2 linked regions of the Homo sapiens genome follow. The protein of the gene in region 1 purifies or fractionates together with the protein of each later gene. This does not show direct contact. Each region holds a gene or a part of one and is shown in the gene's direction. Other genes may lie near its edges. The genes, in order: EIF2AK4 and PGM2L1.

Evidence for each region.
Region 2: the proteins of EIF2AK4 (region 1) and PGM2L1 purify together in Homo sapiens (affinity purification with mass spectrometry; one large-scale study listed by BioGRID and IntAct). This does not show direct contact.

Annotation. Positions count from the first base shown.
Region 1 is NC_000015.10:40,031,473-40,035,296, forward strand, and holds part of EIF2AK4 (eIF-2-alpha kinase GCN2), read left to right. Parts: intron 1-696; coding exon 697-765; intron 766-1,284; coding exon 1,285-1,329; intron 1,330-2,853; coding exon 2,854-2,972; intron 2,973-3,554; coding exon 3,555-3,612; 3' UTR 3,613-3,824. UniProt on the Homo sapiens protein: Metabolic-stress sensing protein kinase that phosphorylates the alpha subunit of eukaryotic translation initiation factor 2 (EIF2S1/eIF-2-alpha) in response to low amino acid availability.
Region 2 is NC_000011.10:74,342,759-74,346,582, reverse strand, and holds part of PGM2L1 (glucose 1,6-bisphosphate synthase), read left to right. Parts: intron 1-933; coding exon 934-1,114; intron 1,115-3,166; coding exon 3,167-3,260; intron 3,261-3,568; coding exon 3,569-3,698; intron 3,699-3,824. UniProt on the Homo sapiens protein: Glucose 1,6-bisphosphate synthase using 1,3-bisphosphoglycerate as a phosphate donor and a series of 1-phosphate sugars, including glucose 1-phosphate, mannose 1-phosphate, ribose 1-phosphate and deoxyribose 1-phosphate, as acceptors.

The DNA of each region.
Region 1 (3,824 bases):
CCAAGTTTCAGTTCTCACACCATGTCCTCATTGCTGCCACCTCTCCCTTTTTCCCAATTTAGCTTCATACTATCATCTCTCTGTCTCTGTGTGCACTGTTTCACTGCGCTACGCCTTTATAAGGAATCATTTCAAAATTATGAAGAGATAATTGACAAGGATTATTAAACAAATGGTCAAGATAAGTTATAAAAACCTCATTTCCCCTGAGATCATATTGCTAGACACCCCTTTCTGAGTGGATTAAGAGCAAATCTTCTTTTTTTTTTTTGAGACAGAGTCTCACTCTGTCACCCAGGCTGGAGTGCAGTGGTGCAACATCAGCTCACCACAACCTCTGCCTCCCATGTTCAAGCGATTCTCCTGCCTCAGCCTCCCGAATAGCTAGTATTATAAGCGCCGGCCACCATGCCCTGCTAATTTTTCTATTTTCAGTAGAGACGGGGTTTCACCATGTTGGCCAAGCTGGTCTCAAACTCCTGACCTCAGGTGATCCCCCAGCCTTGGCCTCCCAAAGTGCTGGGATTACGGGCATGAGCCATCGTACCCAGCCAAGGGCAAACCTTTAGACACCATTTGGAATCCTTTCTAGGCTTTGGTATGTAACCCTGTGATTGTATCCTGGGATAGGAAATAAGATGGCAAGAAAGATGGCTTGGTTTAACATGTTCTGAATTCCATTTTCTTACTATTTAGGTACAAACTCGACTTCAGACCTCCCTTGCCAACTTACATCAGAAAAGCAGTGAAATTGAAATTCTGGCTGTAAGTGGCTTTCTTTAGTATTTTGAAGGTGGCTTCTGTCCATACTGTCAAAGTAGTTGCCTCAGGGTTCAGAGCTTTTTTGCTCAGTGTCAGCAGAATTTGGATGCAGGCCTTATTGTGATGTGAACTACACGCAATTTAAAACTATTAAGAACTAGGGGGAGAATTTAAGGTTTTTTGTTTCTCCTCTTTGTTCCTCTTTAAGATAGAGGAAAATGAAAACAAAAGTCATTTTCCTACATATATCAGGCCTTTGCCTTGCTAAGCTTACACCGAATACATGTAGCAGCGTCAGACCTTTCGGGTGTGGTGTAGAGGGACAGGGAGTACAGTTTCCACTGCTTATTAATTCTCCAGGGCTAAGATCTTATCACTGCACAGTTCATTAAGCCCTTTTACAGCACAATAGCATCTCAGACTCTGCAAACCCTATTCATACTGCTGCATTTCACGTGACACTATGGTCACAAGGCAGTATTGTGCTGCTGAGAGTTGATGTACATTTGTGTGTATTCACAGGTGGATCTACCCAAAGAAACAATATTACAGTTTTTATCATTAGAGGTAAGCAATATGAACTCTTCTGCACTGTGGCCTTTAAGATCCCAAATCTTTGCTATTAGTTTGCCAAAATACTGAAGACGGCATTCATTAGTGATAGTATTTTTCTGGCAGCTGCAGGAATTTAGTAACATTTTTCCTTTTATGTAACATATATGTTCCTAAATCCTATGTTGAAGGACTCATACTTTTCTAGTGACTTTATTTTTCAGATACTTATTTTATTAAAAACAAAAAACAAAAACAAAAAAACACATATACTGCTTTTACTATGTGTCAGGGTCTGGCAGGCCTTGTTGTAAGCATTTTACAAGTAGTAACTCATTTAATCATTACCACCCCAAAATGTAGATACTGTTATTATCCCTTTACAGAGTACGGAAGTAGAGAGGTTAAATATCTTACCCACAGTCACCCAGCTAGTAAGTAGTAGAACCAGGATTTGAACCTAAGCAGACTAGCAGAATCGGTGTTCTTAACCACTATACTATACTATCTCTCAAACCTCCATTCCAGCTAGGGAAGCTCATTTGCAGATTAGTACTATACAAAACAAAATCCTTTTGTAAAAATTAATTAGGTCCTTTATAAATATATATATATTTTTACAGGTACATCCCTTTATCATCAAATAGCCTAAATAAGAACTTTAAAAATTTGAATAGTTATCTTTGCTATTAAGAACACTCAACTATAGTCATAGCTACAGGTGACTTTTGCAACATGTCATATCAAAGAATACTTTTTTGTCTATCCAGAGTGTTTAGTCACAAATTAAATTAGATTAATAGTGAACTTAGCCCTAGAACTAGTATTTTATATATCATTTTTTGTTCTCTTACAAATAAGCATATACCACTATCTCACTGGCAGTGTACTGATTTATGATCCAGTCAAATGGATATACTTAAGAGCTGCTATCACCGTTGTACAAAAAGTAAACAGAGGCCGGGTGCAGTGGCTCACGCCTGTAATCCCAGCACTTTGGGAGGCCGACGTGGGTGGATCACCTGAGGTCTGGGGTTTGAGACCAGCCTGGCCAACATGGTGAAACCCCATCTCTACTAAAAATACAAAAAATTAGCCGGGCGTAGTGGCAGGCGCCTGTAATCCCAGCTACTTGGGAGGCTGAGGCAGAAGAATTACTTGAACCCAGGAGGTGGAGGTTGCAGTGAGCCGAGATTGTGCCACTGCACTCCAGCCTGGGCAACAAGACCGAAACTCCATCTCAAAAAAAAAAAAAAAAAAAGTAAACGGTAGGCAGAAATAACTGCTCTAAAGTCACATCAGCACACTAGGGCTGCAGCATTGTTAATCAGGCTCTAATTAGGGAGTCTTGTTTTAAGGAAAACTGGTGCTTCAGAGGAACCCCAGCAGTCTCCTAACTGGTTCTGCTATCTCCCTATTACTGATTCTCCTGGTATACTTGAAGAGGGAAATGACACTGGAATTTCATTAGTGACCCAGAAAAAACCAGCTAGTAAACCCTAGAGACCTGTTGTTAAGTCTTATCTATTTTTTTCCTAGTGGGATGCTGATGAACAGGCATTTAACACAACTGTGAAGCAGCTGCTGTCACGCCTGCCAAAGCAAAGATACCTCAAATTAGTCTGTGATGAAATTTATAACATCAAAGTAGAAAAAAAGTAAGTTATCACTTGGGCATAGCAGGGTTCACATGGTTAAAATTCAGGGCGGGGGGTTTCAGAGTGACATTATTTTGTTGTCTTGTTGAGGTTTGACGCCTGGTAAGCTGTTCTTAGAATTGCAGCTGACAACCAATAAATCTTGCTTGGACTGTGAATCACAGTCATGATCTCATCAATAACAAAACACAGGGGTCCTAGGAGTAGCTGTCCCAATTACAATTTTGTTCACCCAGGTAATTCACTTTCTAAGTATGTTTAAATCAAAGAAAATAACCATGACTACTTTGCTGTATGTCCTTATGTCATAATGCCAATCAATCAATCAATCATTCATGTTATCATACACTTAAAAGGCAACAAGGAAGCCTATGAGGTGAATGGTTATCTCCTTACTAGGACCTTATACTGCAGACCCCTGTCAGTCACACCTTGTATAAAACCTATATAATTTTTTAATGACTAGCCTTCCATCTTGTTTTTGCTTAAATAAAGCTCCTACAGGTGTTATAAAAATTTATTAGCTCTGTTCTTCACTCATTAAACTGAGTCTGTCCTTATATCTTTTCTTTTCTTTTGCAGGGTGTCTGTGCTATTTCTGTACAGCTATAGAGATGACTACTACAGAATCTTATTTTAACCCTAAAGAACTGTCGTTAACCTCATTCAAACAGACAGAGGCTTATACTGGAATAATGGAATGTTGTACATTCATCATAATTTAAAATTAAATTCTAAGAAGAGGCTGGGTGCAGTGGCTCACACCTTTAATCCCAGCACTTTGGGAAGCCAAGGCAGGAAGACTGCTTGAAACCAGGAGTTTGAGACCAGCCTGAGCAACAAAGCAAGACC
Region 2 (3,824 bases), on another chromosome or scaffold:
TACTTTGATAATTCTTTCCTGTCTTTTAAATTGAAATATTTAAAGATGTATTTGTTTTTATTAAATTATGATCATAGTTTTATATCTTGATTATTTTCCACATTAATTGTACAAAATGCTTCAAAAACTGCTTACAGTGTAATGGTTAAGTATAATGCTTACAGTGTAAGCATTTTCCCCTGACTTTATACATTTTTTGAAAATATTAATTTTTACAAAGACATAATATCCCAACAGATCGCTTTATGATGTAGTTATTTCCTAACCTTTTTTTTTGTTTGTTTGCTTTTTTTTTTTTTTTTTTTTTTTTTTGGAGACATAGTTTCGCTCTTGTTGCTTAGGCTGGAGTGGAGTGCAATGGTGCTATCTTGGCTCACTGCAGCCTCTGCCTCCCAGGTTCAAGCTATTCTCCTGCCTCAGCCTCCTAAGTAGCTGGGACTACAGGCATGTGCCACCATGCCTGGCTAATTTTGTATTTTTAGTAGAGACAGGGTTTTGCCATGTTGGTCAGGCTGGTCTCGAACTCCTGACCTCAGGTGATCCTCCCACCTTGGCCCCCCAAAGTGCTGCGATTACAGGCATGAGCCACCTATTTCCTAATCTTAGTCCTCTGGGCTGCTATGTATTTTTACCATTATAATGTGACAAATGTCCTTAAATAGAAAGGCTTAATTATTTATCATAATTTTTTCTCTCATTAAGTAAAAGAATAAATGTAATGATATAATAATTTTCCAAAAGACGTTGTACCATTCCTACCGTAAAATCACCCCTGGTCAGTTAGAAAAGAAGTAGTAATAAATGTTTTCTCAAAAATCCCATATGATAGTTTTTGATTTTTCCTAACTGAAGGATGGTAATTTTTAGGCCTTGGAGTCAAGAAGTTTTAATGAGAAGAAAGGTCTTGACATTGTATTTTCCTTCTCTCTACAGTGGTTGTTGGAAAGTTTTCACAGGGAATGAGTTGGCAGCTTTGTTTGGATGGTGGATGTTTGATTGCTGGAAGAAAAATAAATCAAGAAATGCTGATGTGAAGAACGTTTATATGTTAGCCACCACAGTCTCTTCTAAAATTCTGAAGGCAATTGCACTTAAAGAAGGATTTCATTTTGAAGTAAGAATCAATAATATCTGTGTGCTACTTTTTAAAACCTATTTCTGTATGTTAAAGACATCTCCCCACCAAGACTGACTTTCATTGATTTCATTTGTAATTCCCTTATTTTTCTAATTCTGTTAACACTTGTTCAGTCTCTTTTGATAATTTAGACACCTTGAGCCAAAATTCATCCAGTACCGTATATGAATTTCTGGGACTAAGATGAGATATTCTTTAAAAATTACATTAATACTTATTATTCTGTACAACAAATATCTGGTTTTCAGACAGGGAAAATATAGCTCCTGGTGACCCCATCAGTAACTCAGACTTCTCTCCAAAAAGTTGTAGGTGTCATCAACCCCTTGTTCAGGCTCTTCAAGCATGGTCTTAAGGAACTTCAAGTAGTCTTCTAAATTGCATAGTAAACCCAATGATCCTACATCCAAAAAAACAAGCAGTGGCTCTCTCTCAGCCCAGATCATTAACCTTATGACCTTAAGACCCTTAAGCTGACCATTTTTGCAGCCATGTTAACTAAATTGCTTTTTCTCTGCCATCTTTGCCAAATATCAGTGAAAATGTCCCTGGACATTTTTCTTGAGCCATAGTCAGGCTACAGGTCTTAACACTAATTTACTGAGTAAAAGAAAATTGTACCTGGCTTTATGAAATAGAGCTTTCAACCTTATGCTTTCTAAAACACAAATAGCAAAATAGAAGATACTGAAAGTTGATTCACACCTAAGATTCTGATGTTTTCCTAGTTTATGTCTATAGCAAGAAGAAGTATAATGGGCACAAAAGAGAAAGAAGAACAATTCTAAAGACCACTATTATAATTTTATTTGCTTGTTTTTGTTGTAGCAGGGAGGTTTTTGACTTTTTAATTTTTATTTTGTAGTAAGGAGGTAGAAAGGTGAATTAGGAAACAAGTTAGTAATGGTGAGCTTTAGTATTAGGGTGTATCACATACTCTTTCTGTTGACTCTGAAACTCTTTCTGTGTCTTTAAAGTGAACAGTAGCTCATTAGATGAAAAGTCCTCAAATCTAATTATTTAAAGAAGTAGTTAGTAACTGTCTTGGTGGTTTTATTAATAGTTAGGACACAGTGTTATGAGAAGGTACACTTGGTTCAAGCTTATGTTATGCTAATATTAAAAGTGCATCACTAAAAAGCTTCATGACCTTTCATTGATTACTCAGGGAGAGTAAATCCACCAACTTTCATAGGCACTCTTATATTAGTGGTTGTAATATAGCTTAAAGGACAGTTTCTGAGAAGCAGAAACTTGAAATTGAATCTTGACTCCATCTCTTATATGCAGTATAATTTTGGGCAGATTGACTTATCTTTCAAGGCTGTGTTTCAGCGACAGCGTTTTTGAGCATTAAAAAAAGATAATGGGGCCAGACGTGGTGGCTCACGCCTGTAATCCCAGCACTTTGGGAGGCTGAGGCAGGTGGATCACAAGGTCAGGAGTTCAAGACCAGCCTGACCAACATGGTGAAACCCCGTCTCTACTAAAAATACAAAAATTAGCTGGGCGTGGTGGCACACCTGTAATCCTAGCTACTTAGGAGGCTGAGACAGGAGAATTGCTTGAACCTGGGAGACGGAGGTTGCAGTGAGCTGAAATTGCGCCACTGCACTCCAGCCTGGGTGACAGAGCGAGACTCCGTCTCAAAAAAAAAAAAAAAAAAAAAAAAAAAGATAATGTAAAGCACCTGGTTCAGTCCTTAATAGTAGGTGATTATACTGATTATACTGTATGTGCTTATTCATGTTACTTTGTGACTACATGAAGCACCACTTATAAATGCTGGTTTATATTTGGTGTAAATCACCTAGTACTATAATCTGTAAATAGTAGGTCATTAGTAGTAGCAGTGTGTGTATTTATGGCCCTTCATTACTATATGTCTGCTACTGTATAAATCTTTGTGGACTGAAGACTATAGTAAGGATCATTATATGAACGTTGTGTGCATGTAGTGGCAGATTTTTCTCTAATAGGTATTTGTGAGACAGTCACTTAACTAGAGTGGCCTCCTCTGCATTTCAGGAAACATTACCAGGTTTTAAATGGATTGGAAGTAGGATAATAGACCTCCTGGAAAATGGGAAAGAAGTCCTTTTTGCATTTGAAGAGTCTATTGGTATGTAGTAAATATTAAAATCTTCAAAATTTGATTGATAATTTTTAAAATGTAATTCTGTAGGAGGAGTTTTTTGTGTTCTGGTTTCATATTTTGAGTTGTAAAAACTACAGAGAATGAGAAATATGTAGATACATTTCTTATCAGAAAAAAAAAAGAACGAAAGTGTCCCCTAAATACACTCAGTATTGATGAGTTTCATCTATTACTAGGCTTTTAAATTTCCTGGTCCTTCTGAAGAAATGTAAAACTATTGAAATTATAGCCTTAAGTTTTCCTCTTTTCTAGTGATGGTTTTCAATCCTCAGGTTTTCTCTGTGGAACTTCAGTTTTGGATAAAGATGGGGTGAGTGCAGCTGTTGTGGTTGCTGAGATGGCATCTTACCTGGAAACCATGAATATAACATTGAAACAGCAACTGGTTAAGGTTTATGAAAAGTAAGTTCTACTATTATGAATTTCACATGCTAGATTTTTCTTTTATTGTCCTACCCTTAGTTTTCTAAATTTGTTTCTGAAGAATAGTTGATCCTTTTTTAAAAAGTATTAAAATTATGTGAATTA